4 separate regions of the Homo sapiens genome follow, and regions 1, 3 and 4 are each linked to region 2. The links come from fine-mapping of genetic effects on gene expression. A gene starts in region 2. Each other region holds a variant in brackets. All regions are shown on one strand. Distances are between the middles of the regions. Region 1 holds the start of PCED1B-AS1 (PCED1B antisense RNA 1). Region 2 holds the start of AMIGO2 (adhesion molecule with Ig like domain 2). Region 3 has its middle 37 kb from the start of LINC02416. Region 4 has its middle 9.9 kb from the start of LINC02156.

The links. PIP is the estimated chance that this variant, and not a neighbour inherited with it, causes the effect.
Region 1: its variant is fine-mapped to the expression of AMIGO2 in blood mononuclear cells (TOPMed, PIP above 0.99). The same link has a PIP of 0.9 or more in whole blood.
Region 3: its variant is fine-mapped to the expression of AMIGO2 in lung (TOPMed, PIP above 0.99).
Region 4: its variant is fine-mapped to the expression of AMIGO2 in monocytes after R848 (Quach 2016, PIP 0.95).

The regions. Positions count from the first base shown.
Region 1 is chr12:47,213,952-47,222,059 of GRCh38, reverse strand. It overlaps PCED1B (PC-esterase domain containing 1B), which reads right to left. Exons shown (of 4, transcript NM_138371.3): 3 at 5,371-5,838. PCED1B-AS1 (PCED1B antisense RNA 1) reads left to right here and starts at 5,617. Exons shown (of 3, transcript NR_026544.1): 1 at 5,617-5,676; 2 at 5,796-5,895. RefSeq lists enhancers at 1-622, 918-1,418. The variant C/G (reference allele first, on the strand shown) is at 3,342.
Region 2 is chr12:47,076,623-47,084,730 of GRCh38, reverse strand. AMIGO2 (adhesion molecule with Ig like domain 2) reads left to right here and starts at 4,772. Exons shown (of 3, transcript NM_001370299.1): 1 at 4,772-5,269; 2 at 5,483-5,589; 3 at 5,666-8,108. The coding sequence starts at 5,729. The coding sequence ends at 7,297. It overlaps PCED1B (PC-esterase domain containing 1B), which reads right to left and starts at 5,110. Exons shown (of 4, transcript NM_138371.3): 1 at 5,006-5,110.
Region 3 is chr12:47,312,522-47,320,629 of GRCh38, reverse strand. No RefSeq gene overlaps it. Among named protein-coding and RNA genes, the nearest start is that of LINC02416, 37 kb to the left of the region's middle. RefSeq lists an enhancer at 7,762-7,811. The variant G/A (reference allele first, on the strand shown) is at 3,701.
Region 4 is chr12:47,401,063-47,409,170 of GRCh38, reverse strand. No RefSeq gene overlaps it. Among named protein-coding and RNA genes, the nearest start is that of LINC02156, 9.9 kb to the left of the region's middle. The variant A/G (reference allele first, on the strand shown) is at 3,323.

The sequences.
Region 1 (8,108 bases), 140 kb before region 2:
GCGATCATGGCTCACTGCAGCCTTTATCTCCCAGGTTTAAGAGATCCTTCTGCCTCAGCCTGCCAAGTAGTTGGGACCACAAGTGTGCATCCCATGCCCAGCTAATTTTTTAAAATTTTTTGTGGAGACAGGCTCTTGCTTTGTGGCCCAGTCTGGTCTTGAACTCCTGGTTTCAAGTAAACCTCCTGCCTTGGCCTCCCAAAGTGCTGGGATTACAGCCATAAGCCACCATGCCCAGCCACTTCCCACTTCTCTAGACACTCATTTATCTTCCCATCAAACTGTGGCTGAATTTCTCAAATAATTGTCTTGTGACCTTTGAACAGTCTCCCTAAATGTAAATATTGCATTGACCAACAATGGGAATGATGGCAGCACATTCTCACCAGGCAATTTCAGAGAGCTGCTGTATAATTTTTCTTGAAGCACTGGCTGGGAATACATAATTGGGTGGAAATATACTTTGCTTCTGAAATGTGTGGATAAAGTCATTTTTATTTTTGATGACTGGTTTTGTTTTAATTGTGAAGAAATCCTTAGGTTGATCTGTATCCTGGCAATCATTTAAAAATTTTCATGTTGGCGGGGCGTGGTGGCTCACCACCTGTAATCCCAGCACTCTGGGAAGCTTAGGCAGGAGGATCACTTGGCCCAGGAATTCAAGACCAACCTGGACAACATGGTGATATCCCTTTCTTAAAAAAAAAAAAAAAAAAAAAAAGAATTTTGATGTCTAACAAATATTGGAAACAATATATATATTTTGAAGATATAGCTTAGGGAGGAGGGGAATGTTGCAATATATATTTTGGGAAGCTGAGCACAGTGATCAATGTCACATTTGTTTTCAGTTTTATGGTTAAATATTTTACTTTCCCCCAATTTTTCTTAGTCCTTAAAAAGTGTGTCTTTGATTAAAACATTATTTTTTAATTGGTATAGTTTTAATTTTATATGTTTTCTTACATAAAACTTCATCATCTAGGTTTTAAAGTTTCAAATTCATTTAATATGTTAGAATAATTCCAACATTTTGCATTCTGTAAACTTTTTATGTCTTGGGATATGATCCTTTCTTCTTGGGATCTTCTGAAAGCCCGCAGGGAACCATAGGGTTTGTATAAGCCCAGAGGGCCTTTTCTCATGTCTTTATGTTTGTCTCTGTGACTCACCTTTGAATGTTCCCCAACCCTTTCCTGTTACTGAAATTCTGCTCCTTCATTAAGACTCACGTTAAAAGACAATTTTGTCAGAGAGCCTTCCCTACTCTCCTAGATAGAAAAATCTCTCCTTCCTCTGAGGGATGCCTCTACTTAACCTTTGGTTCTGTTTTGTTCTATAATTAACTGCCCATGTGCCATTCTATCCCACTCTATGCTAGTTCTGGATGGCAGAAGTGGGTCTCACCCATCCTTGTACCCCTCAGGGCCCAGTGCCTGTGCCTAGTAATCATCGGCACTCACTGAGCACTCACTTTGTGCCAGGCCTATTCCATTCTCACAACCCGGTGAAGGAGGAAGTATTATTATCTCCATTTTATAGATAAGTAAACTGAGGCATGGAGAGGTTATATAAATTGCCTAAGGTTGGCTGGGCATAGTGGCTCACGCCTGTAATCCCAGCACTTTGGGAGGCCGAGGTGGGTGGATCACCTGAGGTCAGGAGTTTGAGACCAGCCTGATCAACATGGTGAAACCCAGTCTCTACTAAAAATACAAAAATTAGCCTGGTGTCATGGCACACACCTGTAATCCCAGCTATTCAGGAGGCCGAGGCAAGAGAATTGCTTGAACCCGGGAGGCAGAGGTTGCAGTGAGCCAAGATCGCGCCACTGCACTCCAGCTTGGACAATAGAATGAGACTCTGTCTCAAAAAATAAATTAAAAATAAATAAATAAATTGCCTAAGGTTGCCCAGCTAGTAAATGGCAGAACTATTCTTTTGACAATGTATCTTCTTCTTCTTCTTCTTTTTTTTTTTTTTTTTTTTTTGAGGCAGTGTCTCCCTTGGTCACCTGGGAGTACAGGGGCATGATCACGGCTCACTGCAGCTTCAACCTCCCAGGCTCAATCAATCCTCCCTCCTCAGCCTCCTAGGTAGTTGGGACTTTAGGCTCATGCCACCACACCCATTATTGACAGTGAATCTTCTGAATAATTAGATAAGCTTAAGGTTTCCTTTTGTTTCTTTAGGAAGAAGTATGGCTCCAAAGCCTGAGCTTTTAATCTCAGCTATAAATACTTGTTTAAATTAAGAAGAAAAAAAATCATATTATCTAGAAAGAAATATTTGCATGTAGCTTTCCTTGTTATTCTCTGTTGAAAAACAAAACAATATTTTGTGCACAGCTTTAAATTTTTCCATGAGAAAACAAAGCAGGTGTGAAATAACTTAGTTCGATTTTCATCACTCTGTTAGCTAGTCTTCTTAAAAGCCGATGGAAAACCCAGTGCTGCACTAAAGCTATATTTGTGTTTCAAATGTTTAGGCTTATGCTGACTACTCTAGATTCCAACCAGTGGCTGAATTAAAAGTTCCCATGGATGAAAAACAAGGGCGATTGGAGAGCTAATAATGACGAGTGCTTTCAACTGATGAACAGGTTGGATTGTGACAATTCTGCTCCAGGACTAGCTACAAAAGTCCATTTACTCAGTAACAGGAATCTAGGGTTGAGTCAGCAGGCCTGGATTTCTTCCACCTCTAATGCTTACTTTATCTTTGTGCTACTTAGTTTTTTACTTCTTAAATGGGGGAAATAGCACCTATGCTCCTCTGAAGGGATTACCCAAAAGAGTTTTAAAAATGGACATTATTTTATTATTGTTGCTATCATTATTGTTACCATTTTTGTAGTATTTAAATTCTATGTGTAATAGTGTTTCTATGGAAAAAGAAACTTTTTTATTTTTGTTTTTTGAGATAGAGTCTCACTCTGTTGCCCAGGCTGGAGTGCAGTGGTGCAATCTTGGCTCGCTACATCCCCTGTCTCATGGGCTAAAGTGATTCTCCTGCCTCAGTCTCCGGAATAGCTGGGATCACAGGCATTTGCCACCATGCCCAGATAATTGTTCTATTTTTAGTAGAGGCGGAGTTTCACCGTGTTGGCCAGGCTGGTCTCGAACTCCTGACCTCAGGTGATCCACCCACCTAGGCCTCCCAAAGTGCTGGGATTACAGGCCTGAGTCACCTTTTTCCACAGGCGGCCGATCTATGGAAAACATTTTTTGAATTTAAAAATGAGAGCAAGTCTCAGCCAGGTAGAGTGGCTCACACCTGAAATCCCAACACTTTGGGAGGCCAAGGAGGGACGATTGCTTGAGACCAGGAGTTCAAGCCCA[C/G]CCTGGGCAATAAAGCTACACCTCTGTCTCTAAAAAAAAAAAAAAAAAAGAAAAAAAATTAAAAATGATCAGGATGTGGTGGCGCATGTCTGTAGTCCCAGCTACTCAGGAGGAGGCTGAGGTGGAAGGATACCTTGCACCCAGGAGTTTGTGGCTGCAGTGAGTCGTGATGGCACCACTGCGCTCCAGCCTGGATGACAGAGCAAGACACTGTCTCTGCCTTGGCTTTTACTCACACTATGTTGTAGAGGATTCTGGAAACTTGAGTTCCCACTGCTTTGCCTGTTGGCAGTGCAACTGAGGACTTGCCAGTTTCAAGCTCTACGGCTTGGAGCGGAAGAAAGGACAAGCAAGGTCCAGGGACTAAGGAAGCTGAGGAACAAGAATCTTGTGCTGGTGAAATGAATGTCATACTGCCTATGCACACCGACTAACTTCTCACATTAGGCCTTTCCCCAGGCCATGGTTTTCCCCACTTCAGTGCCAACAACGGACCTAGGGGTTTTTCTCCCTGCTGCCGTGTCCAGCCGAGCTCTCGCTTCTCTCTTCTCCTCCAGCTCCAAAAATAAGTCAACAGCTCTGCACTGCCTACCTTAGAGTTAATTGTGGAAATCAAATGAAATGCTGTGTAAACTCTACAGATGTTCGCTGCTATTGTTATTCTGAGCCACCTTAGCATATCTGGAAAGTGGGCTTAGTGGTTAAGGGAGATTTCCAGTTAAATGAAGCATTTAACTTATTATTTAGCAACATTAATTATTTAGTGGCATTATTTAGCATACCCTCCAAAAAGTATTTACATGTTTTACCAGTTTATCTCTTTATTCTTCTTAAGAACTCTAAGAAGGGCGCGGTAGCTCATGCCTGTAATCCCAACACTTTGGGAGGCCAAGACGGTCGGATCACCTGAGGTCTGGAGTTCAAGATCAGCCTGGCCAACATGGTGAAACCCTGTCTCTAGTAAAAATATAAAAATTAGCTGGGAGTGGTGTCGCGTGCCTGTAATCCCAGCTACTTGGGAGGCTGAGGCACAAGAATTGCTTGAACTTGGGAGGCGGAGGTTGCGGTGAGCAGAGATAGCACCACTGCACTCCAGCCTGAGCAGCAGAGTGAGACTCCATCACAAAAAAACAAAAACAAAAACAACCTAAGAAATTATTTTCTTTCTTTCTTTCCTTTTCTTTTCTCTCTTTCTCTTTCTTCTTTCTTTCTTTCTTTCTTTCTTTCTTTCTTTCTTTCTTTCTTTCTCTTTCTTTCTTTTTCTTTCTTTCTTTCTTTCTTTTTTTTTCTTCTTTCTCTGTCTCTCTCTCTCTCTCTGTTTCTTTCTTGTCTCACTCTGTTGCCCAAGTTGGAATTCAGTGGCGAAATCATGGCTCACTGCAGCAACTCTGCAGGCTCAATCAATCCTCCCACTTCAGCCTCCCTAGTAGCTGGGACTACAGGCCTGTGCCACCATGCCTGGCTAATTTTTATAGTTTTTTTTAGAGACAGGGTTTCATCATGTTGTCCAGGCTGGTCTTGAACTTAGACTCAAATAATCCACCTGCCTCAGCCTTCCAAAGTGCTTGGATTACGGGTGTGGGCCACCGCACCTGGACTACATATTCTAATTTTCTCCATTTTATACTTTTAAAAATTAAGGCTAAAAGATTGAGTAATCTGCCCAAGGTCATCCATTTTATAAGAAGTAGTGCTGGAAGTAAAACCTGATGCCAAGCCTTTGTGGTCAACCACAACATACAAGATTGCAGACAACAGATGCCTCACGTCCCTTCTCCAGTTCACAACTAAATTGGCTGTTTTCTTTCACTGTCCATTTTAATAAATTTACAAGTTTATCAATCACTAATATTTTTGTTATTGCCAAGCACCAGTTGTCTCTTTAGTGTTACATGGGGTGGGCTGAAGGAGGCTAGGGTGCTGATTCCTGTCTACAGTAAGTGCCCAAAAAATGATGGTCTCAAGAAAGGCTGGTCAGAAATGCCAACTTAAAGTTTCAGATAAAATGGAAAAACTGAAAAGTACTTACTCATTAAAGTAACTGGTGATTTTTAAGCATCTCTCTCAGTTGATTCTAGATCTCGTCCCTAGATAGCTTTCTTCCTCTCCTGTAGATCATTGTGACCAGACGGGAGATCTCAGAGCTTGGGCTATAGGGGAAATAGGTTAGCCTCTGGGTGCTGCTGTGCTTGCAAGCCAGCGTCTGGGGAGAAGATGACATTTCCGGTGGCATCTGGGGCAAACGACACAAGTCAGCATTTAGTTTCTTGCTTTAGGAAGCGGAAGACTAATGACCGAAGCTTCAAGACTTTGACATGTGTGAAAACATGAAATGGTAAGTCAATACAAAGACAGCATCTTCCTGGAATTTGGTTTTGAGCTTGTTTTCATTTCACCTTTCTCAGTAATCTGGGTGTAGCTTATTTTGACTCTTCCTTTGATTAAACAATTCAGACCCTTGGCTCTTATTGTTCTTGCTGGTGTGGTATGTTCACGGCTGAAAAGATGGTCAGAAGGGGAAAGGAGGAAGTGAGAAGAAAGAAACAGGGAAATGGTAAGAAGAACTCTACTTTTCTAAATAATATTTAATAGTAGTAATCTTGTGTTTCTGTGCAAGGTGTTACAGTTTACAAACCGCTTTTATTTTTATTTATTTATTTTTTTTGAGACGGAGTTTTGGTCTTGTTGCCCAGGCTGGAGTGCAGTGGCATGGTCTCGGCTCATTGCAACCTCTGCCTCCCAGGTTCAAGCGATTCTCCTGCTTCAGGCTCCGAGTAGCTGTGACTACATGCACCCACCACCACACCCGGCTGATTTTGTATTTTTAGTAGAGATGGTGTTTCACCATGTTGGCCAGTCTGGTCTCGAACTCCTTACCTCAGGTGATCCACCCGCCTTGGCCTCCCAAAGTGCTGGGATTATAGGGGTGAGCCACCATGGCAGGCCACAAACCGCTTTTAAATCCTTTCACTTCATCTCTCCACTGACGTCTTGATGGAAAAATGGCTCAGTCCACACTACAGGAAACCACAGGCCTGAGCCCCAGCCTCAGCTAGATCCAGTATGTGGCAGAGCAAGATAAGAACTTTCTGCTTCCTCCCTTAGTGTTCCACTTGAAACCAGCAGGTAACTCAAGGGGACAGCGTGCTTAAAAGGGAGATGGTTCGTCTGGCGCTGTGGCTCATGCCTGTAATCCCAGCACTTTGGGAGGCCGAGGCGGGTGGATCACCTGAGGTCAGGAGTTCGAGACCAGCCTGGCCAACATGGTGCAACTCCGTCTCTACTGAAAATACAAAAATTAGCTGGGCGTGGTGGTGGGCCCCTGTAATCCCAGCTACTCGGGGGGCTGAGGCAGGAGAATCGCTTGAACCCAGGAGGCGGAGGTTGCAGTGAGCCAAAATCGTCCCATTGCACTCCAGTCAGGGTGACAAGAGCAAGACTCCATCTTTAAAAAAAAAAAAAGGGTGGGGGAGATGGTCTTCTGATTGATTAGATAAGTGTAGGCATTTGTTTTCTTTTGTCTGGAATAATATGATTTCGGGGAGAGGAATATCACTTTCCCTACAAATACCAAGATGAAAAAGAAAAGGAAATAATGAATCAGAAAAAAAAGAGAGAGAGAAAATGCATGACTACAGAAGGTCCCAGTGCATGACTACAGAAGATCAGAATATACCACCCCCAGGTTCCCGTAATCCCAGGTCCTTGGGAGGCTGAGGCAGGAGAATCGCTTCAACCCAGGAGGCGTAGGTTGCAGCAAGCCGAGATTGCGCCACTGCACCTCAGCCTGGGCAACAGCGAGACTCCATCTCAAAAATAAAAAATATGCCACCCCAAAATATAGTTATTTGGCATATTTCGAGCTGATTATTCTGAGCAACTGCAGACACAAGAGTATCTCTGAAAAGCTGTCCTTTTGTAAAATAAATTTATATTTATAAAAGAAATCTACATTAGTCAAAGTATCTGTATCAGGAAGAGTCCTGCTCTCAGACAACTTTTATTACCTGGGGGATTCCAGTGTGTGTGCATATAATTAAAAATGTTTTTTCCTTTTCTTTTCTTTTTTTTTGAATTGAGATTTGGTCTCAATATGTTGCCCAGGCTGGTCTTGAACTCGTGGGCTCAAGTGATCCTCCCACCTCAGCTTCCCAAAGTGCTGGGATCACAGGCATGAGCCACCGAGCCTGGCCAAAAATGTTTTTTTCTCCTGTTAATCTGTTTTATGTCAATTTAATTTGTATCCCAGCCAAAGAACCTAGAAGTAGGGAGGAAGCCATTTTCCCTCCCTTACAGCACAAAATAACTAACCAACAAGAGTAAGAGGTTTCACAACAGTCCTGAATTACATGCTCTGAAGACTTAGCTTTTTTTAATAGTATGCTATTTATGTAAACTGGATTATAATGTGACATAATTGTCTTTCCTTGAAAAATATCATTTTACTTTACATCACTGTCTATTCAGTGTGTGGCTTAAAATTAATTCCATACCTTATGCATTGTTTTCATCCTCTATGGCCATCAATAAAGTTATCTTGCAGTTCCCCATGAGTTTTAGTACAGTCATTACCGGGAAATTTAATAGAATCAAGGCAGAACCCAACTGATAGCTTTAGTATTTTATAATCCAGAGTAGTCTATTACATAACTTTGAAAAATCTGCCATTATTTAGTTCTAGCAATTCTATAAATGAATTGCAAATCTTTCTAGTTCTGTAGATTTCAGCTAGTCTGTGCACTGTGAGAATAAAAGGACAATCTCTGT
Region 2 (8,108 bases):
TGGAACTTTGGTCCCCACAACCACATTCTAAGTTAAAGTGCAGCTAACCTATGCAGGTCTTTCAACAGCGTGATCCTAACAGATTCTGTGCAACCCTTAGCTAAAAATCCCAGTCCAAACCTAGAAAACATGCTAAGTGAAAGAAGCCAGACACAAAAAAACACATATTGAATGATTCCATTTATATAAAATGTCCAGAATAGGCAAATCCATAGAAACAGAAAGTACATTAGTGGTTGCCAGGGGCTGAGAGAAAGGGAAATAGGAGTAACTGCTTAATGGGCATAGGACCTCTTTTTGGGGTGATGAAAATACAGACAGTCTCTGACTTATGATGGTTCAGTTTGCCTTAGGATGTTTCAACTTTACAATGGTGCAAAAGTGATACACATTCAGTAGAAACCATACTTCAAGTACCCATACAATCATTCTGTTTTTCACTTTCAGTATAGTATTCAATGAATTCCATGAGCAATTCAACACTTTTTTAAATATAATATAGACTTTGTGTTAGACGATTTTGCTCAACTGTAGGCTAGTGTAAGTGTTCTGTGCACATTTAAGGCAGGCTAGGCTAAACTATGATGTTCAGTAGATTTGGTGTAATAAATGCACTTTTAACTTATTTATTGAGTTTTTTTTGGAATGTAATCCCATTGTAAATTGAGGAGCATCTGTATTCTGTAATTAAGATAGTGGTGATGGTTGCACAGTATTGTGAATATATTAAACAATCACTGAACTGCGCACTTTAAAATTGTTACAATGGTGAATTTTATGTCATGTGGATTTTATCTCAAGTGAATTAAAAAACAAAAAACTGTCCGGCCTATGTCAATGAAGATAAGAGACAGACCAACCAGATGAGTGAGTGGAGACTGCTTAAAGAGTAGCCCCATTGTGAGCTCTTCCTGGGGAGGACATGCAGTACCTCCTGCAGAATACTGAATACTCCCATTCTATCCCCCCATTTCCAGCCAAGTAAAGGGAGCGTCCAGAGAAACATGCCATAAGCTGACCCATGCCTCCTGGAGTTCAGAAAGCACAGGAGCTGGAGTCTGAGTTTTCCCAGAAAATGTATCTCCATATAATGAAAGACACAGGATGGGGTGAGAGATCTGGTTCTATAAAAAATCTTAGGCAATTTACAAAAACCAACTGGAGCAGGCCAAGAGAAGAACAGGATGCTGTAGGAGCTGAGTGCACTTCCATAGTTGTTGGGCAAAGGTATGTTTTTCTTGTGGGTTCAAGCTAAGTTACACTGTAAAAATCCTATTAAGAGTGCTGCCCGCCAGAGTGATGAAACTCCACAGGAAGCTCCTGCATGCAGCAATCAGTGACCCCAGTGAGCTCCATCTCCAAAGAACACCCAGTGTGCCTCACGCCGAAAAAAGAGGCAACAAGATATCTGCCAGTGTATAAATTCCACCTGACTACAGGACGCGTGGTAGAGTCAAAGGAGATAAAGAATGTGAAAGCCCTTCTTAGGACATAAAGTGCTATTGAAGTGTTAATTATTAGTAAAAATGACTTAGAATCATCAAACATGTGCTATTAATTTCTTGTCTCATATCTCTAATTACTTAAATCTTTGATTACAACCTGAGAAATTGTGGAAATTACAGGGCTAGAACTCCTGTGATTTCATCACCTCAAATTACTGCCTCAGGCAGATAGTATTTCCAAACCCAGCTAGACACTCACATGACCACACCCCCTTCTCAGCATACTAGATTCAGAATTATGTCAAGTGTCAAGCCACATTCTACTATCCCTTGGAGTCATTACTGAATGGTCAAAAATTCCAATGTATTATGTCATGTGGAAGAGGCCAGAGGAATATCTATCGCATCCTATTTTAAACTCCTGAGAAGGCAACTCAACCATCTGTCTTGGCAACCCATTCCAGGTTGGAACCACCCTGGCAGAAACGTCTCTCTTCTGTTTAATCTAAATCCTTCAAATAGAACCTTGAGATAATTGCATCCCATTTCATTTTCAAATAATTTGGAACACAGTTGTTTACCATCTGGGTTATAGGATTATATAATGTCACAGGGCTGTGGTGAGCAATAAATGAAATAATGCATGTAAAACGCATAGCTCAGTGTCTGGCATATAATAAAGGCTCAGTACATATTTATTATCACCATCATTACATGTGTTAGTACTCTGTCCGTCACAAGTGACATGCAACTCAAAATAATTTAAGCTAAAAAAGGGGGTGGGGTGGAAAATATAATTAAAAAGGAAGTAAAAGTATGCAGTGGCCTTCAGGTACTACCAGATCCAGGACTCAAATAACATTTACAGGACTCCTCTTTCTCTTTCTTCTCCTTTTTTTTAAGACAAGCTTTCAAAGCATAAAAGGCAGGACAGCAACCAGCAGATTCAGTTGGGGTAAACCGTTATCTTAACCACTTTGAATAGGTTCCCTGTTCATCAGTTCATTTATCAAAAATTTATTGAATGTGTTAAGCAGGGTTCTGAGAGCTGAGAATACAGCAATACACAAAACAGATAAAACTGCTATCCTCTTGGAATTTACCTTCTAGTGGAAAGAGGGAATCTGTTAGAAGGAGAAGGGATGCTAGAAAGATAAAAATGTTATCCTCCACAAAATAAGGTCACGTCTTATACCTTAAGATCAACTCTTATCTTTCTTTCCTCCCAGCTAGTAAACTCAATCCTTTTACAACGTTCTTCCCTTTCACAAACATGTGAAATCCCCCAAATCAGGTCTTCAAATGGATAAATAGCCTTGTCTATGGATTTTGAGTGCATTTAGTTTACTTTTGCTGTGTAATCTCTGCATAATGTTTCTACAATATGCCTGTAGTTATAATAATATAACCTTCCTGTTTCCATTTTTTTGAATCACTTATTCTTTTTAGACTATTTTTGCATTAAATACAGGTCTTTCTTCTGCCTTCATGGTTTCCTTAAAATACGATGTTAATTAGTAAAATCCTGCAAAAACCTGGTCATTTATTAGTCATTTAAAAAATATTCCTCTGAGCGATTTTAATTCTATTCCTCTGTATTAACTATTCTAACTCTATAAAATTGAAGTCCTGGAGACCAAGCTTTTGAGAATCCCAGGAAGTGTGGCCTAATACTAGAAAATCTCAACTTCTGCCTCTCCCCTTTAAGTACACAGTAAGAAATGCTTGCATGAAGCATTTTAGGCTGTGTTCTTATGATAAAATTCAACTTTCATGAAATAAATTAATCTGAATCAAGTTGTCCTCATCTGAAAATGCCTAGATTTATTAGTGCTAGCCCGGCTTTATTCCACAAACAATTCTATTTAAATTAGGTGTTGGTCTAACAAATCTGCCTGACCACAGCAATGACTCACGGACCATGTAGGAAACAACTTTCACTAAATTCAAGATTGCTCAAGTGAAAAGGTGCGCGGGGGAGGGGAGGAAGAGTTGGTTGTCCTCATCATTTTTATTTTTAAGTAATATTACAAGTTATCTATCCTGCCCCAACTGTTTCCTCAATTTGGTTGCTTTTCATTCCACTGTGGTTGGCATCTTTTGTCAAGGCAGTAATTTATTTCTTTTAATCCGGATATAATGGCCAAATGGGCGATCTGACTCACTCAAATCCCATCGTTAAAACTTATCTTGGAATTAAACAAAAATGGATTTTTAATCGTAGAGCTCATCAGCCTCATAGTCTCCACCTCATTTCTGAATGGCCTTGTTCGGCTTGCACCTTCTGTGCTTGCTGAACCAAAGCGCGCTGGTCGGCCGCGGCATCTCCGGAAGGGATGAAGAGCCTCCGCGCACACGCCCCTTACTTCCCTGTCCCGCACGCGCCACGAGCACGCTTGCAAAAGACGGGGAGGTGGCGGGGACAGAGACAGAGGAAATGAGAGAGAGAGAACGAAAGAGAAAGGAGAGAGAGGGAGAGAGAGAGGGAGAGAGAAGAGGGGAAGGAGAAGAGAGAAAAAAGAAAAAAAGGTCTGCTCTGGGATTATTATTATTATTTGGGTTAATACTCTTATCTTTGCATTCCAGCCGGAAGGTCGGCTCCAAGCCTTCTTTCCTGCCCTCCTCCTTCTTGAATTGGACACCATCCCTGTTGCCGCCTCCTGAGTCAGGAAAGGGATAGAACTTTCCCAGGGAGGTGAGGGGTGTCCCCGTGGCGATTTCCCGGTTACTTCCTCCCAGCAGATATCCCTGTGGAGAGGAAACGTTCCCGACTTCCCTCCCCGCGACCTCCTCCCTAGAAACGAGCGGAGACGTCAGGCTGCTTCTGGGTTTATTTTGTAAACCCAGACAGTCAACTGCACTTGGCGCAGGCAAAGCCTCCTTGGCCCTTGCCCCAAAGCAAAGCTCTAAGAGGTCCGGGGATTCCTTGGCCTGGGTGGGGAGAGAGACGTGACCTGTGCGGCCGCCGCGAAGTGGGTCTCCAAGGGTGAGACCCCTCCCTCGGTGGCTGGGCGTGTCCCCTTTAGCCTTCCTGGACCCCATTACCGCCCGGCTTGGAGCTGGACGAAGGGACGTAATTGGTAGGCGAGTGGGTTGGGCATCTTGACTCAAGGACCAGAGTCTGGGCCTCTGGTGTGGACCCCTGCCCCCTCCCCGCTCTGCGCGGCCGTTCTAGAGGTCCGGGTGGGAGCTGGAGGAGGAAAGCGGGAGGAGGCGGCGAGGCCGCGGGGCGGTATGAGGGGGCGCCGGCCGCCTCTCGGATTGGCTGCGCCGCCGCCCCCTCCGCATCGCGCGCCCCCCACCACGCGCCCAGCCTGCTCCCTCCCGCAGGCTCCGAGCTGCTGCCCGCAGGAGGCAGGACGCGCAGGGGTGGGACCGGCGCCCCAGCCCGTCTCCCGGCCCCGGGCGCGCGGGAACCCCGGGTCCTGCAGCCTCCCGAGTGCGGAGAGGCGGGGCCGCCCGCTGCCGCCCGGCTGCCTGCGCCCCCTCCCGCGGCCCCGGCTCTGGGAGCGGGGCGCCCCGCGCGCGGGCACACGGCGGCCAGAGCGCCGAGGCGGTACCTTCAGCCTGCAATGAGAGGAACCCGGGAGAGCCCCCGGGAGCCAGCGAAGAGCTTGGCTGCTGCGTCCAGGGCTGCTGCTGCCGCCGCGGCTGCTTGAAACTCCTCAAAGTTGAGAGCCGGCTAGAGGGTGCCGCCCGCCGGGAGCCGGAGGGAAAGGAAGTCGGAAGGTGCAAGAGTGACAGACACGGACAGACGGACGCGCAGACCTTCGGAAGGCACTGCGTAGGCAGCCTCCCCGGAGCCCACGAGGCTCCCCAGCACCGTGAGTTTTTTCCTGGATGGGTGGTTGCTAAGTATTTCCGTTTAATTGTTTGTAGCGTACGTTTGCGTATAGTTGTGTCTGTTGGAGGGAGTTTAAAACAACAACAACAACAACAACAACGCAGGATGCACCTTAGGAAAAAATTGAGTTTCTGATGGTGGGTGAGACGGTGGGTTGTATGGAGAGAATGTGACTGTACATTTTTATAAGCAGGACTAACCCAGGAAAGAGGAAAAAATACATTTAACAGTGAAGAGGCAACACAGAGCTCCCTATTGTGAAATAAAACCCATTTCAAAAGTTATTGGAAAGAAAGTAAGGTATGGCTCTTATGGGTTAACTAGTGGTAGTCAGTTTCTGCTTTTTACTCCCTCTGAATTATTAATTGTTTGCCAGGTTCACTGGTGGGAGGCTGAGCCGGTGGAAAAGACACCGGGAAGAGACTCAGAGGCGACCATAATGTCGTTACGTGTACACACTCTGCCCACCCTGCTTGGAGCCGTCGTCAGACCGGGCTGCAGGGAGCTGCTGTGTTTGCTGATGATCACAGTGACTGTGGGCCCTGGTGCCTCTGGGGTGTGCCCCACCGCTTGCATCTGTGCCACTGACATCGTCAGCTGCACCAACAAAAACCTGTCCAAGGTGCCTGGGAACCTTTTCAGACTGATTAAGAGACTGGACCTGAGTTATAACAGAATTGGGCTTCTGGATTCTGAGTGGATTCCAGTATCGTTTGCAAAGCTGAACACCCTAATTCTTCGTCATAACAACATCACCAGCATTTCCACGGGCAGTTTTTCCACAACTCCAAATTTGAAGTGTCTTGACTTATCGTCCAATAAGCTGAAGACGGTGAAAAATGCTGTATTCCAAGAGTTGAAGGTTCTGGAAGTGCTTCTGCTTTACAACAATCACATATCCTATCTCGATCCTTCAGCGTTTGGAGGGCTCTCCCAGTTGCAGAAACTCTACTTAAGTGGAAATTTTCTCACACAGTTTCCGATGGATTTGTATGTTGGAAGGTTCAAGCTGGCAGAACTGATGTTTTTAGATGTTTCTTATAACCGAATTCCTTCCATGCCAATGCACCACATAAATTTAGTGCCAGGAAAACAGCTGAGAGGCATCTACCTTCATGGAAACCCATTTGTCTGTGACTGTTCCCTGTACTCCTTGCTGGTCTTTTGGTATCGTAGGCACTTTAGCTCAGTGATGGATTTTAAGAACGATTACACCTGTCGCCTGTGGTCTGACTCCAGGCACTCGCGTCAGGTACTTCTGCTCCAGGATAGCTTTATGAATTGCTCTGACAGCATCATCAATGGTTCCTTTCGTGCGCTTGGCTTTATTCATGAGGCTCAGGTCGGGGAAAGACTGATGGTCCACTGTGACAGCAAGACAGGTAATGCAAATACGGATTTCATCTGGGTGGGTCCAGATAACAGACTGCTAGAGCCGGATAAAGAGATGGAAAACTTTTACGTGTTTCACAATGGAAGTCTGGTTATAGAAAGCCCTCGTTTTGAGGATGCTGGAGTGTATTCTTGTATCGCAATGAATAAGCAACGCCTGTTAAATGAAACTGTGGACGTCACAATAAATGTGAGCAATTTCACTGTAAGCAGATCCCATGCTCATGAGGCATTTAACACAGCTTTTACCACTCTTGCTGCTTGCGTGGCCAGTATCGTTTTGGTACTTTTGTACCTCTATCTGACTCCATGCCCCTGCAAGTGTAAAACCAAGAGACAGAAAAATATGCTACACCAAAGCAATGCCCATTCATCGATTCTCAGTCCTGGCCCCGCTAGTGATGCCTCCGCTGATGAACGGAAGGCAGGTGCAGGTAAAAGAGTGGTGTTTTTGGAACCCCTGAAGGATACTGCAGCAGGGCAGAACGGGAAAGTCAGGCTCTTTCCCAGCGAGGCAGTGATAGCTGAGGGCATCCTAAAGTCCACGAGGGGGAAATCTGACTCAGATTCAGTCAATTCAGTGTTTTCTGACACACCTTTTGTGGCGTCCACTTAATTTGTGCCTATATTTGTATGATGTCATAATTTAATCTGTTCATATTTAACTTTGTGTGTGGTCTGCAAAATAAACAGCAGGACAGAAATTGTGTTGTTTTGTTCTTTGAAATACAACCAAATTCTCTTAAAATGATTGGTAGGAAATGAGGTAAAGTACTTCAGTTCCTCAATGTGCCATAGAAAGATGGGGTTGTTTTCCAAAGTTTAAGTTCTAGATCACAATATCTTAGCTTTTAGCACTATTGGTAATTTCAGAGTAGGCCCAAAGGTGATATGACTCCCATTGTCCCTTTATTTAGGATATTGAAAGAAAAAATAAACTTTATGTATTAGTGTCCTTTAAAAATAGACTTTGCTAACTTACTAGTACCAGAGTTATTTTAAAGAAAAACACTAGTGTCCAATTTCATTTTTAAAAGATGTAGAAAGAAGAATCAAGCATCAATTAATTATAAAGCCTAAAGCAAAGTTAGATTTGGGGGTTATTCAGCCAAAATTACCGTTTTAGACCAGAATGAATAGACTACACTGATAAAATGTACTGGATAATGCCACATCCTATATGGTGTTATAGAAATAGTGCAAGGAAAGTACATTTGTTTGCCTGTCTTTTCATTTTGTACATTCTTCCCATTCTGTATTCTTGTACAAAAGATCTCATTGAAAATTTAAAGTCATCATAATTTGTTGCCATAAATATGTAAGTGTCAATACCAAAATGTCTGAGTAACTTCTTAAATCCCTGTTCTAGCAAACTAATATTGGTTCATGTGCTTGTGTATATGTAAATCTTAAATTATGTGAACTAT
Region 3 (8,108 bases), 240 kb before region 2:
TACAGGTGTGAGCCACTGTGCCTGGACCAGGAGAAACTCTTGAACCCAGGAGGCGGAGGTTGCAGTGAGCTGAGATCGCACCCCTGCACTCCAGCCTGGGCAACAGAGCGAGACTCCATCTCAAAATAATAATAATAATAAATAAATAAATGAAAAACATGTCCATCAAAAAGCCAAATCATTTTGAAATTTCAAAACCCCAGATATAAAGAAAAGATCCCGAAAGCTTCTAGAGAGAAAAAGAAAACCAATTTATGTACAAAGCGCTGGTTCCAAGAATGGCAACATTTGTAGTCCTAACTCTCACAGAGAGTTTTCCTTCTATTTAAGCCTATATTGTTGTTAAACCCCTTTTGCTGAGGGCTCGTCTTCTGAGTTTTATTTCTGAATTCTCCCCTTCACTACCCATTTGCTCTCCTCATTAAAAAATACTCTTACAGAGTTCTATCACATACTCAAAACAGTCTTTTCTCCCCTTACCCTATTTCCAGATCTGACGCTGTGACAGACTAAGTGTATACTGGCCTGGATCTTTCTCCCTTTGCTGGGAGAGCCATTTCTTTAGTCATCATCTGTACTGAGCAGTGGTCAACTGTGAATTTCCTCAGCACATGCCAGCTGAGCTCAGTTACCAGGGTCTCTGCAGAGACTGGCTCCACCTGCCTTTCTGCACCAAGTTGTTGACAACTTCTCTCTTACTCCTTCTTGGAGCCATCTCAGTCCTCTTTGGTGGTCAGAAGGAGATGAAGCTGTCAGTCAGGCAGCAGCTGCCACAACCCACATAATACCAATTCAACCTACAAACACAATCATGAGATTTCTCTTTGCTGGTAACCAGACAATAGGCCCATCCACACTGCAATTCTGTCCAGTTGAGAAGGTGAGGCAACAAAAATCTGCTTAGATTGACAGCAAACACATAAGTATTGTGCCTGAGAAGTTTTTAAGCAGGAAGGCTTGAATTTACATGTTTGTACAAAACCAAAACCCCTTCCTTACTTTGTCTCTCTCTACTCTCTCCATCTTCCCTTTTATTTCCTTAATGATGGTCTTCTAGTTCTACCTACCCTAGGTTCATGTTAGGCTCATAGTACAGGTTCTCTCCTTTATCATTTCATTATTCTATGGAGTTATAGCTGTTCTTGTGTCCTTATGGTCTGCAAATGCCAGAAATTGTTCAAATGGTCACCTCTTGTATCATTTAGCTTCTGCTGCATAACAAATTACCCCAAAACTTAGTGGCTTAATATAACAACCTTTTTTTTTTTTTTATCTCATGATTCTTCAGTCCATTAAGTTAGGCTGGGTTCATCCAAGCAGTTCTGGCCAGGTTGGCTGGGGTTTGGCTGGTTGAGGGGTCTCAACTGAGATCCCTCATCTGTACTTTATGTGGTTTCTCACCTTCCAGCAGGCAATCCTGGGCGTGGTCACATGGTGACGGCATTATTCAAAGAGTGTGCTCTTTGAACACAATATAGGAAGCTGCAAGGCCTCTTGGGGCCTACGCTTGGAACTCATTCAATGCCAGTTCTGTGGTATTCTATTGACCAAAGCATGTGGCAAGGCCATCCCAGATTCAAGGTGACTCTACCCTTTTTTTTTTTTTTTTTTTGGTGAGAAGAAGTCTTGCTCTGTGGCCCAGGCTGGAGTGCAGTGGCAAATCTCGGCTCACTGCAACCTCCACCTCCCGGGTTCCAGCGATTCTCCTGCCTCAGCCTCCTGAGTAGCTGGGACTACAGGTGCATGCCACCTCACCTAACTAATTTTTGTATTTTTTAGTAGAGACAGGGTTTCTCCATGTTGGCCAGGTTGGTCTCGAACTCCTGACCTCAGGTGATCCACCCAGCTGGACTTCCCAAAGTGCTGGTATTACAGGTGTGAGCCACAGCACCCGGCCAACTCTACCTCTTAATGGGAGAAACTACAGAATATTATGGCCATTTTTACAATGTACTGTATTTCAGTAGAGAAAAACTGGGAGTAGGGAAGGAAAAAGATGGACAACTTTTACTTTTCACTTACGGAATTACGTTTTGTTTAAATTTTAAAAATTATGGATGCATATACACTACTTCTACAATAACAATAATGATAACACATTAAAATATGACTCCAAATATTTCTTGTATTATCTTAGTTACACGAGGATAATAATCTAATCCACTGATATTTTGAAGGACCCATGATTTTGAATCAAAACACCTAATTCAGGCTTTGTCTTTGAACCACCTCTAATTATAAGGCTAAATAATGGTAAATTTAATATGAAATCCTCCAGCATGGAGCTTGACACATAGCAAATGTTGGGTAAATCTGAATCTGAATGAGAAGATAGGGGCAAAAAAGATGTATGAATAATATAAAAATAACTTTAAAATCTGTTCTATTTATTTTTTGTTTTGTTTTCTGAGACAAGGTCTTGCTCTGTTACCCAGGCTGGAGTGCAGTGGTGCAATCATAGCTCACTGCAACTCCTGGGCTCAAGGGATCCTCCCACCTCAGCCTCCCAAGTAGCTGGGACCACAGGCACACACCACCAAGCCAGGCTAGTTGTCTTTATTTTTATTTTTAATAGAGACGAGGTCTCCCTGTGATGCCCAGGCTGGTCTTGAACTCCTGAACTTGAGTGATCCTCCTGTATCAGCCTCCCAAAGTGCTGGGATTACAGGCATGAGTCACTGTGCCCAGCCAAAATCTGTTCTATTAATTTAGTGTTTATAAAAACAACTTGCCAGCTTTTATTATGGCAACTTGAACTTTAATGGACAAGAAAAGAGATTTGATTTAACTTCATATACTTGCAGTTTGGACTGTTGGAGAAAATATTAACAGCATGTCCATTGCTGTAATGCAAGCTGGGAATTATAACCTAAGGCAGCATGAAGAGTGTTCTTAAATTCTAGTCCTGCAAGTCACCCATCTAATTAAGAAACCATATATCTTATGATACATGCCAGGAATTCTCCTTAGCTATATCAAGTGGAGCCTTGGGGAGACATCCACAGGAGCTATTTTTCAAAAAACCTTCTTTCTGGCTGGGTGCGGTGGCTCACGCCTGTAATCCCAGCACTTCGGGAGGCCAAGGCGGGCAGGTCACCTGAGGACAGGAGTTCAAGACCAGCCTGGCCAACGTGGTGAAACCCCGTCTGTACTAAAAATACAAAAATTAGCCAGGCATGGTGGCACCTGCCAATAATCCCAGCCACTTGGGAGGCTGAGGCAGGAGAATCAATTGAACCCGGGAGGAGGAGGTGGCAGTGAGGCGAGATCACGCCATTGCACTCCAGCCTGGGCAAAAGAGCGAAACTCCGTCTCAAAACCAAAACCAAAACCAAAACAAACAAACAACAAAACTTCCTTTTTTTAGCAGCTGCAGCACATATTAGCAAGTGGCAGAAAAGTGACCTCTTAATTTTGTTCAATAGACCCCATATTCAGTTTGTTCTTGTGCTTTTACCAGTACTTACTATTTCTCCAAATTAAAAATGGATAAATAGAAGCAATAAAAATATGTTAGAGAAATTCTTGCAGATCTTTTTTGGCTGATTTTCAATCCAGAATATGTTTTCCTAAAGTCTCACAAAGTATTTACAAGAACAGGCCTGCTATTTATTTAATGACCATTCGATGCCATCCTGACCTTTCCCAGGAAGGTCAAAGAGTAGCCTGTTATTTGAATGCCTAATTTAACTGGACAAAG[G/A]AAATTGCTTTCATAATTTCTACTTTGGCCTTCCTGATTGAACCAAATGTCAACTTTCCACACAATGTTCCCCAACAAACATTCTTATTCCTAATGCAACCAGATTAGATCAATCTGCATCTGTCTCCATTGTACCCTGGGATTGCATAAACTCTGGATACATATTTATTTTGTGGATTCATTTCCATGTTAATTGGAACGCAGTTTCCTGGAATTTCTTTTCTGAGTATGATAATCTTCTTACAGTCAGCATGATGGAAACAGCTGTGTGCTGTTTACTTTAAGGAGGATGGTGTTCCTTGCTCAGATGATCATTGGATATCCACTTTCTAGATCAAATATTGTATCTCCATTCTTTCTTATAGAATTATTAGAACATGTTAATTTATGGAGGACTTTCAAACTCAATTTTATTAGGCTACTGGTTTGGGGAGAGCATAGTACACAACAAAAATTATTGAAAAGCCATAATATTTAATTAAATCTCTGCTTTCTAAGTAGATTTTTAAAATCAACCTTATTTATTTATTTATTTATTTATTTTTGAAACAGTGTCTTGCTCTGTCACCCAGGCTGGAGTGCAGTGGCACAATCTCGGCTCACTGCAACCTCTGCCTCCTGGGTTCAAGCGATTCTCCTGCCTCAGCCTCCCAAGTAGCTGGGATTATAGGCTCGTGCCACCACGTCCTGCTATTTTTTGTATTTTTAGTAGAGACGGGGGTTCAGCATGTTGGCCAGGCTGGAAATCAACTATTTTTTAATTACAAAAGTTATATATGTAAAGTGCAGAAAATCTGGAAGTTTGACAATCCCACTATTGTTAACATTTTGATGGCTTTCTTTCATAAACACATAATAGATTTTTGTAAGATATTTTTATTCTGAGCAGATAAATACAGTATCAGTCCAAACACTTTTTCACCAGCCATCCGTCTAATCTAACTAAGGAGTTATTAGATGATAAAATAAAGCAGATTATTCAATCCAACATCAAACATGTTCTGAAGATTTACTATGTGCTCCACACTTTCTCCTCTCTGGGATGGGTGAGAAGAGCACAAAAATAAATAAGACACATCCTTGCTTTGTCAACATGATTAGCAACCAAGATAGAGTTGCTTTAGCCTCCACAGGTATATTGCCATTCCAAACACAGTCAGGCTTAATAAATAAAAATAGAATACATATTAGGTAGACAACTCAGTCTCTACCATGTCACCTGAGTTTAGCCATGCATGTCTCTTTAGGGCAACCATTTTATATATAAGAGATGTCTCAGCTTCCCTCCCTGGAAACTCTTCTCTTCCCTCTCTAGGATCAGACACATGCTCTCATCAGTACAGTTAAGGATCAGATGAGAGATGAATTGGGCTTTGTCAATTCCCATTCCCATTGTTGCTTACTATCTTATCAACAAAACTAAAACAAGCTTAAGGAAAAATGTTTCATCTATGTTAATTTTCTCTACTCCTTTTTGTCATAAAAATAAAATAAATTATTTTTCATATTGTCCCTTTCCTGTGTCCTCTTAATCTTTGTTTTTTGCACAAAATTGCAGTATGGTTTACTTTACTTTTGGGGTCCAATCCCAGGCTGAGGTCCTGACCCTTGAAATTCTTGAAAGCAGAGACACTCAACTACTGGCTGTTGTCAGATGCTGTGAGGACCTGAGCAGTTCTGGGTGAAAACCCAGATAGGGAAGTTGTTTCTCCAGTTGATGAACACACTGTAATTCTTATTTGGGACAGAAAAAAAGGTGTAGGAAGATGTTATGACTATGTAACAAATAGAAGCCTGGGCAACACAGGGAGACCACTTCTCTACAAAAATTTTTTAAAAACTCAACTGGGCACGGTGGCTCATGCCTGTAGTCCCAGCTACTCAGGAGGTTGAGTTGGGAGGATTACTTGAGCCTGGGAGGTTGAGGCTGCAGTGATCATGTCACTGTGTCACTGCACTCCAGTCTGGGTGACACAGCAAGAAGACCCTGTCCCCCAAAACAAAACAAAACAAAAACAAACAAACAAACAAAAAACTCAAATAGACCTAGAATGTATTTAAAAGGAAAAGTAGCACCAGTTGGAACTCTGATGGTCAAAAACAAAAACAAAACCCTCATCTGCCTAGGTATACACCCAAAAGAATGAAAACAGAGATTTTAATAGATACTTGAACATCAGTGTTGATAGCAGCATTACTCACCGTAGGCAAAAGATGGGAAACAACCTCACTGCTCTTTGACAGATGAATGGATAAACAAAATGTCATGTAAATATTCATCCTTAAAAATGATGAATTTTTAAAATGATGAATAGTCAGACATGTGCTATAACATGGATGAACCTTGAAAACATCATGCTAAGTGAAATAAGCCAGGCAAGAAGGGACAAATATATGGTTCCACTTATATGGGGTACCTAGAATAGACAAGTTCATAGAGATAGAAAGTTTGATAGAGGTTACCGGGGACTGAGGGACAGGGTGAATGGAAAGTTACTGTATAATGAGCACGGAGTTTGGAATGATGGAAGAGTCCCGGAAATGGATAGTGGTAATGGTTGCATACATTTTGAATGTACTTAATGTCACTGAATTGTGCACTTAAAAGTGGTTACAATGGTTTTATATTATGAATGTTCTCCATCTTAGTACCTATCAACTCTTCCTGCTTGCTACAGGCTTTCCCTTTCTACCCTTAGGCAGGCATGGCTCTCCCTGAGTCAACAATATGCAGCCCCTAGGGTGGCCACAAGCCCAGGATCCCTCCCAGCCTGAAGGAACTGTACTCATATTGCCCTGGGTTGGCAGCCTGGGTTCTCTGCTGAGTTACCCCAAAGTGGTTTCAGGACAGCACAATTATTTATTAAGTAGCTCTGGTGCTGACCTTAAGAAAAAACAGAACAACGAAAGTATTAAGCGTAAAACCTTTCTCTTTTAATGAATGAGTAAATATTCATGTTATTATTCCTAGAAATAAGAACTCTGTCCGCCTGGGTAACATAGTGAGACACCATCTCTACAAAAAAATTAAAAAGCTAGCCAGGCGTGGTGGCATGCGCCTGTAGTCCCAGCTACTTGGGAGGCCTAAGGCAGGAGGATTGCTTGAGCCTGGGAGGTTGAGGCTGCAGTGAGTCATGGTCATGCCACTGCCCTCCAGCCTGGGTGATGCAGCAAGACCTTGTCTCAAAAAAGAAAAAAAAAAAGGAAGAAAGAAAAGAAAAGAAAAAAGAACTCTGAAGACCTTGGGAAAGAATGGTACTTAGTAGTTAGAGTTCTGTATATAAGGAAAATATTTCCAAATGCTCTATGAGGTCTGGAAAGTTATTTCACTAAGTACATTCAAAGTTGCAACAGGAGATCATTTTTTGCTGGATGGTTTTAATAATAATATACAGTGCCCCATGTATAAAGAGCTGTAGCTAATGGCAGCCATAAGGTATGTAAGCACAAAAGGGACATGTGTTTATGCTGAAGGTTTTGATTTCAAAAATAAGGCCATGTTTTAAGTTATTAGAGAGCACGATTCTTATACTATCAAGGTATTACAATGCTTTGGAGATGTCCATTAATTTATGGGCTTTTGGATTCCTGTAAGTGCTTACTTCATAATTCCTGGGTCTATATTTGCCTTGAATATCCATCAATATTCCACAAGTACTTGCTGCAACCCTATCCTCCCTACAAGCTCCCCCAGTACAAACATACAAAATTGATAAGACTCAAGGTCCTCTCTTGCCACAATCAGATCATTAACCTGCGCTGCCAACCAGAGTTTCATGGTTCTTTATTTATTTATTCATTTATAATATCTAGGATTATAGTCTAAGAAGCAGGATTCTCCAAGGAAAATGGTCACACACACACACACACACACACTCTTACATTATCACTGGCTCAGCCGGCTGGGATTAGACTTTAACTCAGGCCCTTTATTAAAATGAAGTTGCAAAAGGCCAATTTCACTTCCTCTTTCCAAGAGGTGTGAGATTCTTGCCACATCCCCAGGCCCCTACATGTTCTGTAGGTAGAAAGAAGCAAAATAATCTCCAATATGTGCAAAGTTCAGAAATCAGGGCTGCCAGAAGACAGACTGGCTATGATGGACTGTCATTTGGTATTACTAAAAAAAAAATCATGGGTCATTTACCAAAATCTCACTTTATATTCAGCTATTTTAGTATCACATTGACAAAGTACAGGGTTAGAAATACAAACAAATTTAGAAATGAGGAGGTAAAGCTAGGGGAAAACTAAAAGGCTAGAGGGTGGTTCATATAAAACCTAATTTAAAAATCTATGAGATTTTAAAATACGTGGGGAGTTTACAATCTAGTCTCCTATATTAACACTTCTGAACATTACACATAGTTAGCCATCAAATATTTATTGAGTTCTTCTAATGTGCCAG
Region 4 (8,108 bases), 320 kb before region 2:
TCCTAACGTGACAGTTTTGCCTATCCTATACACCGAAGTGTCTAAAACATTGTAGGTACTAAAAAATCATTTAGAGAAGGAATGAATGAATGTACTTGTTCATTTAGACAGATAAGCCTGAGAGAGGCAGGTGTGGTATATGAGAGGGTGACGAAGTAGAAACTAATAAAATATTTGCTAATATTTTTCTAGTTGTACCTGGGGCCAAAGAGACTGTATGATTTTCTGCACACTCCTCACCCACCCCCATATTACATACAGGTGCAATGTGATTACAGTGAACTTGAAGTCCACCCTGGGGTGTGAGGATATATGTGTATATGTATACACTATATATCACCTCAAACTGTGATGAAATGTGGGGAGGGAAGACATTTGAGGCTGGACAGATCTGGGTCCAAATTCCTCTTCTGGCTTTTGCCTGACATATGATTTTGAGCAAGTTATTTTAAAACCTCAACCCTGACAGCATGACTCTCTCATGTGTGTTTTCTATGAGGCAGTTACTCTGCTCTGTGCTTCTCTTCCCAATGTGAGAAGAAAATGGCCTGCCCTGGTGACTGGGAAGGGTGATATGGCAATTATAGGGATGGGGGGCAGCTGTAAGATGGTGCACTTGTGTTTGGCACCAGCTAAATTGCCCAGCTCTGTCCTACCTGCTGCACCTTGAGCCACTGCACATCCACAAAAGCATCCTAGAGAGGGCACTGCAGAGCCACAGAACCTGTGGGTTTCACTTCCTGAAAAAACAAAACCAGGAAACGATAACAAATACCTTGAGTGCTCACTATGTGCCAGGGATTGTTCTAACCATTACTCATATTGACCAACTCAATTATTTATCCTAAGGACCTACTTTACAGGTGAGGAAACTAGTTACATACAGGGCACATGGGTAATGAGTAGCAGTGCCAGGAGTCGAACCTAAGTAGTTTCATTCCAGAGCCTGAGCTCTTGACACTCCCTGTGGCATGACAGGTGGTTCAAAATGCTGGTAAAATGAGTCTGTATCCATGGCTGTGGTCTCAGTGGTGAAGTAGTGTCCCTTGCACTCCCACAGGGCCCTTTCTTGGACCAGGCTTCTAGCCAATCATACCTGTGTCCTATGGCTTAATGTCGCATGGCCTAGTGGCTGCAGAATGGCCTCAGTCTGTGACACATTGAGTTTATATTCTTCTTTCAGATAAGAGAAAAATCTCATGGCCTCTAGTGACTGGTATGTGTCCCAGTTCTTTTCCCTCCTCCTCTGCATGATGGCAGGGGCACGGTCTTCCTCAGAACACCTGTGCTGACATCATATACCAGCATTTTTTCAGTTGCTGTCTTATTTTATCTCCTATGTAAGCTGCATTCCTGCTGCACACACACAGTGTCTAGCATATAGTGGGTGTGCAATGCACACTAAATGAATAGGAAAAAGGATAATTTCAGATAGTGATGAAGAACCATTATAGAAATCGAACTCCTGCCTTCTGCAAGTCCAGGATCTGTGCCAAGTGAAAGAGCTGACGTTACGCCATTGGCACAAACAGAGAACCATATTAAAGTGCAATGGCAAATTTAAACATTAAAGCATGAGAAGTATTTTTGTTACTGCACCTTGCCAAATGGAACTGAAGCAGATTTTGATATAAAAATTGACAGGAAGCAAAAGTGGAATGGATAAAAATAGAAAAGAAATTACCAAGCCTTGAAAGGAAGTACACAAGATGAAAATGGAATTAAATCCACCTTGACTGGAGGAGATTATATTTTAAAAAATGAATAAATTGACAGCAAATTAACATGTAGTACATCTACAATCTGCCTTTAAGGAATAACAAAAGATATTTTTATTATCTCAATGCAGAAATTTTGGTTGATTTTTTTTTTCCATTACTTCCTGAAATGAGAGGTTTAGTTTTATATAGAACTAAGTGTTATGCTTTGCCCAACTGCTTGGGTGCACACGGAGGAGTCTGTATTGTGTTTCTCTCTGGATGCAAGTATTTTCTTGGATGGAATTTTCTGTGAACTTGAGATTGTGTGATTGCCTAGAGATTGGGGCATGTCTCTCTCTCTCTCTCTCTCTCTCTCTGTGTGTGTGTGTGTGTGTGTGTGTGTGTGTGTGTGTGTGTGTGTTGGGGGGTGGGTATTTGAGGGCATGCAAGATGAAACATTCCAGAGTTGAAATCCTTAGGAGAAGTCCAATATGGCAAAAGCGGAGCCCAACTAGAAAACTGAAGCCCTGAAGACTCTTTCCTGAAGCTTTGTGTCACAGTTACATGACCCTGGGTAAATCACATTTTCTCTGGGTCTCAGTTTCACTATTTATAAAATAGAGATAATAATTTCTACTTTTCCTACCCGTTAATGAGGATCTAATTTGATAATGGACCTGAAAGTACTTTGAAGACATTTGCTATGATCCTAATGCAAGGAATTATTGTTATAATTTTTTTTCTAAGCAATGAGGTTATTGTTGTGTAACTCTAAGATTGCGAGGGGATTTCTTTGAAAAGCAGAGGAGAAGCAGTATATGATAATTCCTTATGTTTATATAGTTGTTCGTCATTTTTAAGATCCACAATCTATATTCACTACCAGATTTGTCCAATAATCCTGCAAGATAGGCAGCTCTTTGGGCAGATGGAGAAAGACTGAAGGAATTGCACAGGGTGTCCCAGCTCTTGCATGGAGGAGCCAGCACTAGAACCCACACAATCCACAGTGGCCCAAAAAGTCACCATGCTGGAGTTGCCTGCATTCTTCACAGGTGTGTGTGTGTGTGTGTGTGTAAATAACATCTGATTAATAAGAACACACAAGAAATTGAAGTCTTTGTCTCAAGCTTTCCTCTCCAAATCTTGCTCTTATGGACATAATATGCCATTTGGTTTGAGCCTTGGAGGCAGTTGTTAATAAATATGTGCTGTACAGATCCCGGTGCTGGCTGCTACAGAGACACTGGTGAAGAGGGCATTGATTTGGTCTTTGGGAAACTTCTGGTCTACAGGATAAGACAGACATGTAAACAGGGAAGGGCATCGTGTGATGAATATTATGCCTGAGGTGAGATGACTCTGTGAGGCATCCAAGAGAGGCCCTGCTACTACTCTTTGTGGGCTCGAGGAGGCCTCCAGAAAGAAGAGGTGTCTAAGGTGAGACATGAGGATGAGCAGGAGTTAAGAGGGTCAAGGAGGAAAATGTATCAGGCAGAGGCAGTGGCAGTTTCGAAAGCCTGGAAGGGAAAAAAGCAGAATATTTGGGAGACAAAGTGTTTCCAAAAGGCTGAGGCACAGAGTGTCTACATACTGTGATGGAAATATTGGGGTGATGGGCC[A/G]GGCGCGGTGGCTCACACCTGTAATCCCAGCACTTTGGGAGGCCGAGAAGGGCGGATCACGAGGTCAGGAGATCGAGACCATCCTGGCTAACACGGGGAATCCCCGTCTCTACTAAAAATACCAAAAAAAAAATTAGCCGGGCATGGTGGCGGGCGCCTGTAGTCCCAGCTACTCAGGAGGCTGAGGCAGGAGAATGGCGTGAACCCGGGATGCGGAGCTGAGCTGAGATCGCGCCACTGCACTCCAGCCTGGGGGACAGAGCGAGACTCCGCCTCAAAAAAAAAAAAAAAGAAAAAAGAAAATGGGGTGATGAAAATGTTCTCACACTGGCGTGTGGTGATATGGGCACAACTCTACATTTACTTAAAAACAGCACAACTCTACATTTACCTAAAAAAATCATAGAATGTGGCCGGGTGTGGTGGCTCAAGCCTGTAATCCCAGCACGTTGGGAGGCCGAGGCGTGCGGATCACAAGGTCAGGAAATCGAGACCATCCTGGCTAACACGCTGAAACCCAGTCTCTACTAAAAATCCAAAAAAAAAAAAAAAAAAAAAAAAATATATATATATATATATATATATATATATATATATATATATATATATATATATATATAAAATTAGCCGGGCGTGGTGGTGGGTACCTGTAGTCCCAGCTACTCGGGAGGCTGAGGCAGGAGAACGGCATGAACCTGGGAGGCGGAGCTTGCAGTGAGCCGAGATGGCGCCACTGCACTCCAGCCTGGGCGACAGGGCGAGACTCCGTCTAAAAAAAAAAAAAAATCATAGAATGTGAATTACCTCAATAAAGGTAATCTATGAAGGAGCGGGTAATAGGAGCAGAGTAGCCGCTGGTGAGAAATGAGACCAATGACACAAGCTGGGGTCTTGGGGAACCTCGATCGGTTTTATCAGAAGAGTGGCATGGTCAGATTTATCCTAAAGAAGGAGTACTCTGGAAGTGCATGGAGAAAGAAGAGAAGAAATTCAGTTAGCAGATAAGGAGGCCAGTGGTCCATGCAAAAAAGAATGATGGGTCTGGACTTGGGTGATGGCAGTGGAATGGGGAGGTGAAGGAGAGTGAGAAGCAAAGGATGGCACCAGGACCTTCCATCCATGCATGTGGAACAGTTGCATATTTGAAAACACCTCAACAATTGATTGACTTTTTTCATCAAACATGATAATTACATGAAGCTACATTTCCCTGGAGGCTGCTTTATTTTTCTCCCATCTAAACCAGGGAGCAGAGACACATGGATGGGGCTGTGACTGCCTTTGTTTCCTCTCTTTGCCCCTTGAGGAGATGAATTTACTCCTATGTTCCTTTTTCCACCTTTCGGCCACTGTATTTCTCCTCTCTTACAGTCCTCCAGTTCTTAAGCTGTAGTAACTTAAGTCAAAGCATTATTGATTAATTATGTTCCCACTTTAAATATGATTTGTGCTAAAAAAAAAAACTGAAAAGGAATGAAAACACATGTCCATGCAAAGACTTGTCCATGAATGTTCATGGAGCAGTATTATTCAGAACTAGAAACTACCCAAATGTCCATCGACAAGTGAATGGATAAATAAAATATGGTATGTTCATTCAATAAAAAGGAAAAACTCCCAATACATGCTATGACATAGACACATCTTCAAAACAGTATGTTAAGTGAAAGACATCAGATGTAAAATACCACACATTGCATGATTCTATGTACATGAAATGTCCAGAAAAGCGAAGTCTATAAAGACAGAAAGTAAGTCAGTGGTTGCCTGGGGTTGGAGGTGAGAATGGCACTAGACTACAAATGGACATGAGGGGTGTATTGGGGTGATGAAATTGTTTGAACACTGGCATGTGGTGATATATACATAGCTCTAAATTTACTAAAAATAAAGTCATGGAATGGAAATTACTTTAATAAAGCTGTGAAAGAAGGAAAGAAAGAAAAGAAAGAAGGAAAGAAAAAGAAAGAAAAAAAGAAAGAAAGAAAGAGAAAGAAAGGAAGGAAGGAAGAAAGGGGAGAGAGAAGAAAAGAGAGAGAGAGAAGAATTCTGAAGGAAAGGATGATAGTATAGACGTGCATTTGAAAGGGCCAGTTATTGCTGGGCAGTGTCAGAGAGGAGGGGCTGGAGCCTACAATATCACTTTCTCATAGGCATGAAGAAGCCAGGGGTCTAGGCTAGCTTCAAAGCACTTTGAGGAACAAGGTCAGTTTCTCAGGGTATGTCAAGTTCTGAGCCAGACTTGAAGTTGGAGGGCCATGGGATAGATGGCTTGTCCTATCGACTGTGGTCAGTGGATGTCTCTGAAATAGCAGGCAGGCAAGCTAGGGGTCCAACTGTGTATCACAAGGTGCCCCACTCTGGACTGGACTCAGGAGGATTGTCTAGTCCTCAGGGATGGATACTGTCAAAAACAAGGCACAGCTCTGGCCTCAGGTTTCCTTTAAAGAGAAGACCAGACTCTGAGCTGAAGAAGAGTTACCAAGACAGAAACCCAGCTATAAGAATTGGAACCTCAGGGAGCACTGAACTCAGAGAGGTCATCAGAACAGGCTTCTAGAATCAGGGCATCCATGAATCCTCATCAGCCCTGGGCCTAGGTAGAGGGGTGTGTCTGGGCATGGAGATGGCAGGTGGCAATGATTAGAATCAGGATGCAAAGGTTGAGTCTTATATTAGTAATCACACTGGGCCCAGACTGAGGCTGGTGCACTTCATGCTCTGCCTGGGTTCTGGACAAAATTAGGAGTTCTAAATGCCCACATTTCTCCCACACCTGCCATGTGTAATTCAAAATATAAACAACATGAAGCTCTATAATAACTGTATGAAAGACCAACAAAAATCTTATTTGTTCTCATGATGACCTCATCAGAGCTTTAAAAAATATATATCGGGAAAGTTCTAACTTCCCCTTAACCCACGTTCTTTATCTCCTTCCCTGTTATGTGTTATCACCTTCTTACATACCATATAAGGTGTTTTAAATTTTGTTTATTGTCTGTCTTCCCTTATTAAAATCTAAGGGTATAAATTCTCTGCTGTGTCTCTAGCAACTAGAACCATGCCTGACAGTAATGCTCCAAATGAATCAAGCATAAATTCTTTCCCTCCTTTATTTCTCTGCTCTGTAGATGTTCTAAGTGTCACTAGGCTGCTGGTTGGGTGATCTAGCACAGCCTCAGCCTCAGGTCTCAGTGGGTTCCAGGGACAGGTGGTAGGTCCCACATTTGCCAGGAATGGAGATCTGATGGGTACTGATTGGGGATTTGAGGGATGCTGTGTGGGCAAGGACCAAGACTGAGTCTGACAAAACTCATGGTGGGATTTCCATATCTGAGACAGGATGGTAGTGGACACTTTAAATTGGGCCTTTTCTAATTGTACCCTGAAGTCAACTGCTTCTGTCCTTTTCAAGTTGTACCCTGAAGTCAACTGCTTAGTGTGCCTGCTAGCATCAGGGCCAGCAAACCTGGTTTCATTTTTTTTTATTAATTTCAACTTTTATTTTAGATTCAAGGGGGAAATGTGCAGATTTGTTACATGGGTATATTGCACAATGCTAAGGTTTGGGGTATGATTGATCCTGTCACACAGGTACTGAGCATAGTACCAATAGTTATTGAATCCTTGCCCCACTCCCTTCCTCCTCACTCTAGTAGTCCCCAGTATCTATTGCTGTCATATTTACGTCCCTGAGTACCCAATGCTTATTTAGCTCACACTTGTGGGAATTTGTGATATTTGTTGTTTTTATTCCTGTGTTAATTTGCTTAGGATAATGGCCTCCAGCTATGTCTATGTTGCTGCAAAGGACATTCAGTCTTTTTATGGCTGTATAGTATACCATGGTGTATGTGTACCACATTTTTATTATCCAGTACACCATTGCTGGGCACCTAGGTTGATTCCATGTCTTTACTATTGTGAATAATGCTGTGATGAACATATGAATGCATGTGTCTTTTTGGTAGAATGATTTATTTTTCTTTGGGGATATACCCAATAATGGGATTGCTAGGTCAAATGGTAATTCACTTTTAAGTTCTTTGAAAGACCACCAAACTGCTTTCCACCGTGGCTGAATTAATTTACATTCCTACCAACAGAGTGTGAGCATTCCCTTATTTTCTCAGCCTCGCTGACATTTGTTGTTTTTGACTTTTTACTAACAGCCACTCTGACTGGTGTGAGATGGTATCGTATTATGGCTTTAATTCGCATTTATCTAATGATTAGTGATGTTGTATCAGTCCATTTTCATACTGCTATAAACAACTGCCTAAGACTGGGTAATTTATAAAGGAAAGAGGTTTAATTGACTCACAGTTCAGCATGGCTGGGGATGCCCCAGGAAACTTACAATCATGATGGAAGGCAAAGGGGAAGCAAGGCATCTTCTTCAAAAGGCAGTAGAAAGGAGAAGTGCTGAGTGAAGGGGGAGGAGCCCTTTATAAAGCCATCAGATTTCATGAGAACTCACTGTCACGAGAACAGCATGGGGGAAACCACCCCCATGATTCAATTATCTCCACGTGTTCTCTCCCTTGACGTGTGGGGATTATAGGGATTACAATTCAAGATGAGATTTGGGTAGGGACACAAAGCCCAACCATATCAGATGTGGACCATTTTTTCATGCTTGTTGGCCACTTGTATGTCTTCCTTTGAGAAGTGTCTGTTCATGTCTTTCTGAATGGGGTTATTTGGTTTTTGTTTGTTCAATTGTTTAAGTTCCTTATAGATTCTGGATATTAGACCTTTGTCAAATGCATAGTTTGCAAAT